Linked DNA regions of Homo sapiens: region 2 is linked to region 1. The links come from fine-mapping of genetic effects on gene expression. Tissue or cell type: whole blood. Region 1 holds a variant in brackets; the other region holds the start of a gene. All regions are shown on one strand. Distances are from middle to middle.

Evidence for each region. PIP is the estimated chance that this variant, and not a neighbour inherited with it, causes the effect.
Region 2: TRIM6 starts here. The variant in region 1 is fine-mapped to the expression of TRIM6 in whole blood (TOPMed, PIP 0.96).

The regions. Positions count from the first base shown.
Region 1 is chr11:5,627,770-5,630,457 of GRCh38, reverse strand. The region is part of intron 7 of TRIM6-TRIM34 (TRIM6-TRIM34 readthrough); the gene reads right to left. All of the region lies in intron 1 of TRIM34 (tripartite motif containing 34), which reads right to left. It also overlaps a transcript of TRIM5 not described here. Among named protein-coding and RNA genes, the nearest start is that of TRIM34, 4.1 kb to the right of the region's middle. The variant C/T (reference allele first, on the strand shown) is at 1,505.
Region 2 is chr11:5,595,078-5,597,765 of GRCh38, reverse strand. TRIM6 (tripartite motif containing 6) reads right to left here and starts at 1,129. Exons shown (of 8, transcript NM_001003818.3): 1 at 852-1,129. The coding sequence starts at 868. It overlaps TRIM6-TRIM34 (TRIM6-TRIM34 readthrough), which reads right to left and starts at 1,129. Exons shown (of 14, transcript NM_001003819.4): 1 at 852-1,129. The coding sequence starts at 868. It also overlaps a transcript of TRIM5 not described here. RefSeq lists enhancers at 1,145-1,194, 441-1,358, 1,513-1,807.

The DNA of each region.
Region 1 (2,688 bases):
TTCCTAAATGAAGTAAAAGTGACAGTCTCTTTCCAATGAATAGGAGGTGGGGGCAGGGATGGGAGGATGCAGGACAAGTTAACAGAGAGAAGCAGATGAGGGTGGGAAGTAGGGTAAGGTAAAGGAAATAAGATTGGAAGTCAGACTAGACATGTGGGGGAAAAAAAGGTTATCATTAGGCTTAAGTCCTTTCTTCCTATAAAAAACACATCGCCATCACCATCCCCTGGTATATTATTTTATTTTTATTCTTTTTGGTAAGCACAGACCTCATTTTCCGTAAGAGGATTGAGACTCTTGTAACAAAATATTCTCTGTAGGGCCCTGGAAGCTATGTTCATGGTCTTTACAAGGGAATCAATCCGTTGATGTAAGATTTACCTAAGCTACGTTAGTTTCACACGCATCCACATGGTCACATGGTCTTGTACCACCGTAAGAATCCTCACTGAGGCCGGGCGCGGTGGCTCACCCCTGTAATCTCAGCACTTTGGGAGGCCGAGGCAGGCGGATCACGAGGTAAGGAGATCAAGACCATCCTGGCTAACAAGGTGAAACCCCATCTCTACTAAAAATACAAAAATTAGCCAGGGGTGGCGGCGGGCGCCTGTAGTCCCAGCTACTCGGGAGGCTAAGGCAGGAGAATGGCGTGAACCCGGGAGGCAGAGCTTCCAGTGAGCCGAGATCGCACCACTGCACTCCAGCCCGGGCGACAGAGCGAGACTCCGTCTCAAAAAACAAAACAAAACAAAAGAATCCTCACGGAGAGCTCACCTGAAGCGGCCCTGTCTGCATGCTATATCTCCTGTCCTGTATTCCCCCTGTGGAGTTAAGCTGCATGAGTGCAAATGGCAAAACAAACCTGCAATTATTGCTTGTGGTCAGCCAGAGGGTGTACCACAGAGTAGTGGCATGATGATACAATGCCAATTCTCAGAACCTGAGGTCAGTTTAGACAAGAAACTGTGAGGCAAAGGGAAAAAGGGTGGCTCTCAGTAGGCAGTAACATTTTGATACTTGTTCTAGTAGATAGATTTATACCCTCCACAAAAATTGTTCACTTATGTGAATGTGAACTTATTTGAAAATCACATCTTTGCAGGTGTAATCAAGTTAAGATGAGGTCATACTGGATAAAGACAGGCCCTAAATTCAATGACCTGTAGTTTTTGTTTTTTTTTGAGATGGAGTTTCGCTCTGTCGCCCAGGCTGGAATGCAATGGTACAATCTCAGCTCACTGCAACCCCCGCCTCCCAGGTTCAAGCGATTCTCCTGCCTCAGTCTCCTGAGTAGCTGGGATTACAGGTGTATGCCACCACGCCCAACTAATTTTTAGATTTTTAGTAGAGACGGGGTTTCACCATGTTGGCCATGCTGGTCTTGAACTCCTGACCTCAGGTGATCCACCTGTCTCGGCCTCCCAAAGTGCTGGGATTACAGGTGTGAGCCACTGCACCCGGCCTTGACCTGTGTTTTTATAAGAGGAGAAGACATACAGACACA[C/T]GGGAAAGAAAGCCATGTGACAGTAGAGGCAGAGATGGGAATAGCACAGATATAAGCCAAAGAATGCCGAGGTTTGCTAGAAACCACCAGAAGCTAGGAGAGAGGAATAGAACCGATTTTCACATAGAGCCTTCTGAAAAAAAAAAATCAACTTTGCCGCCATCTTGGTTTTGGACTTCTGGGCTCCTGAGCTGTGATACAAATTCCTGTTGTTTTAAGTCATCTAGTTTGTGATAATTGGTTACAACAGTGCTAGGAAACTAATATAATTGAACAGGTTTGATAGTGAAAGAAAGATCTGTGATGTGTGACAACTTAGGAATCTTTCCCACGCTTGGCAAAAGGATGGGGTACAATAAAAGCTGTATGGAGATAAACCTAGGCCTCGAGACCTGTCTACTCCTCTAACCATCCATCAAAAGACCTTAAGGAGGAAAAAAAGCTGAAAGTTGACTGGCGAGTGTCATCCAGCCAATGGTACAGATACTAAAAATCATACAAAAGAGATATACTGGTAGCCCCTGGCTACAATGACCATTGGTCAGACCAGGATCTGATGACTAGTAAGACAAGGAGTTTATATGATATGATAATATTCACCCCTGTTTATGGCTAAAGCCATGAGCCAACCACAGATGTGGGGTTCTTTGTTATCTTTTATTCCAATCAGTATCCAACCAATAGTTAGAAATACCGGGGGGCTCCAGGAGAGGAAGTAGTAGAACATGCATTCTGCCACGGGCTGTGACTTCATGTTCACAGTGAGGATGCATGTTGATGCCAAAGCTGCTGCCACCATAATGGCAAAAGAATGAGAAAAGTGCAGAGTAACCACGGTCCCACGTGTGAGAAATGACCCCACCACTTCCCAGTGTGGCTCAAGCCCAGCAGCAGTCAGGGAGGTAGAGAAGGGAACATGAGTGCCATTGGCCTGACAGAACTCCCAGGTTACCTGGTTACCATAGCTGCCAGGTGATTATACCCTTCATTTGAGTCTTCTCCTAACATCTGGACTCCTAACATCTGGATATGATAATGCAAACTTTAAGTCTCTCTGCAGGTAGATAGTAAAATTAGAGTGTCTCTACGAGTGACTTTTAGGGGAGGATGTCTTTTGAAGTTTCTAGACAATATCCTAGACACTTCTTCTGGATTCTTGGTCAGAAACTGCCAATAAGGAAAGT
Region 2 (2,688 bases), 33 kb after region 1:
AGAATGGAAGCTTGCATCGATATCAAAATGGCTTTCAGAATAAAAATCAGTGACTCAGCAGGGGATACTGGGGCTGGTGTAGGCTGGGGGTTCAGAGTTAGGAATGACAGAGCGGGCCCGTCCACCAGCTGGGAGCCCTAGTGAAAGTGGAATAAAATAGGTGGCAGTTGCATTTATAAGTGAGTTGGGCATGAGTTCTTGCACTTTAGGAATAACATTTTTTTTTATCTTTGTGTAGGGTTATATTTAACCTATTATCTGCAATTGATTATCTAACAGGACTCAATAAATATTTGAATTGGAACATAATCAGTTTCAAAACAAAAAATTTAATTTCCACTTCAAAAGAATTTCTACCCCCTGCATTTCAGAAACCTATAATTTAAAAATTGTTTTGATTGTGCATTTTTTTAAAGCTAGGCATGGAGTTTGCCAGTAATAATGACCATAATTTGTGTCAGGCAGCCTCCTACGTGTTTAAATCTGTCTCACTCAATCCTCACCAAAACTCTAAGATATACATATTACTCCGTCCATCTTATAGATGGAAGAAACTAAAGCTCAAAGAAGTCAAGTTAACAGTCTTCGGGCACACAGCCAGTGTCTGTCAGAGTCAGGATTTGAACACATGCAGTCTGGCTGCGGCATCTATGCTCCTAACCACACATTTCTGTCTCTATTGACTGACTGATTAAAATGTCTCTAACCTCAGTGGGGTCATTTGCAGTGAGAAAGAAAAAGAAATAAAGATATAATGAGTTCCGAAAGGGAAAGGACCTTATCTCTTTCACTGCCCTGTCACCTCTGCCAGAAGTGACAATAAGAGCCAGTCAACAGAACGGTAGACATACCTCTCTGACCCGCACATCTGGGGAATGAGAAGCCAAGAAGTTCCAGATGTAAGCAATATCAGGTGGTCAAAGCTCTTCAGAGCAATCCAAGGCACCTTAAACTAATCTTAAGGAACAGAGCGCGCTCACTCGGCTTTTATCTAAACTCAACCACGCACGACTCTGCTCCGTTCCGTTCCGAGAAAGGCAGGGGATCCCTCCTCCGCCAGCCTTTGGCCGTTGAACGGACGGACCCACAGGTCAGGAGTTTGCGGAAGGCTCATCTCCCAACTCCTTCTGGGAGGAGTCGGGCCGCCTGGGGTGGGGGATAAACGGTGCTCACTTCCTGGAGCGGCCAGGCTGGAGATGGGGGAGGGGAAGGGGGAAGGGGGAAGGGGGAAGGGGGAAGGGGGGAAGGGGAGAACGGGGGAAGGGGGGAAGGGATGCTGACTCTGAATCCACGCCTGACAAAATGGTTTGCAGTGATTCCCTAAAGCAGTTTCCAGAGCTGCCTCCTCTACATACTTCAGCTTGTAGAATAGAGGTTTAACTCTCTTTACACGGCCTATTCCCAGCTGCAAAGGTGCCTCTTCTGTGCTCCCTTCCCAAACTTGAGTTCACTTGAAAATGCAGAAGTCTCCCTCATTCTTCTTTCACCCGTGAACCACCCCCAACCCGACCTGCAGAGCGGGTCAAACTCTCCAGACAAGTGGGGACAGCGGTAGCTGGCCAGAAAATAAACTTGCTCACTAACCTGGAATCTGTGGCCTGGATCAGAGCCAAGGACTTGAAGCAGCCGCGTCCTCCACCCAGGCCGAAAGACTCAGGGGGGAAGGGGCGGGGCCTGGGGAGGAGGAGGGTCAAATTGTCCAGCCCCGCAGGAGATCCAGCCGATTCCATGGGTGTGGTCACCAGTGACCCCTCAGGTGGTAAGGGAGATGGAGATGGTTTCTGAGGCCAGGCGCGGTGGTTCACCCCTGTAATCCCAGCACTTTGGGAGGCCGAGGCGGGCGGATAACGAGGTCAGGAGATTGAGACCATCCCGGCCAACATGATGAAACCCTGTCTCTACTAAAAATACAGAAATTAGCTGGGCGCGCCTGTGGTCCTAGCTACTCGGGAGGCTGAGGCAGGAGAATCGCTTGAACCCGGGAGGTGGAGGTTGCACTCCAGCCTGGAGACAGAGCGAGACTCTCTCTCAAAAAAAAAAAAAAAGAATTTTTGAAGGTAGCAACGCAAAGCTGTTCATCTTACCTGATGAACGGCAAATCCGGAGGCCTTTGAGAACACCAGGCCAGAGATGACCCTTGTAAATTGTCTGCAGTGTACTGTAGCTTTCTAATATCATATCAGAGTTTAATTACACTGATAATACACCTGTACTCCATATAGACGTATTAATTAAAATGTCTAAATAAACATATAAAGTTATACGAGTAAAAGCCCCTTTGCATAATGGCATGTTTTGCCAAACGATCATTAAAATTCATCAGTTTAAAATTACACGTATGTATGTATAAAGCTGTGTGTGTGTATCTGTAATTTTGACCTATATAACTAGAAGACAATCTTTGTTTTTATTTAGGTCTGATGAATACATGTAAAGCTTATTGAGCCTCAGAACTCTAACTACAGGGTTTCAATAGCACAGAAACTCTGAGAAGAAAAAGAATGTCAAAGTTCCTCCCTAAGGAGACTGATTAGGTGAGTATCACCTTGCCTTAGAAGGTGGCTTGGGGAGGGAGGTATAGAGAGAGAAGGGACTGGGGTGTCCATACAAAAGTCTGGACGGAGGATTGGGCAGTAGGGAGAGAGCTGGGTTAAGTATCAAGAGATTTCTCTGGACAGTCCCCAGGCA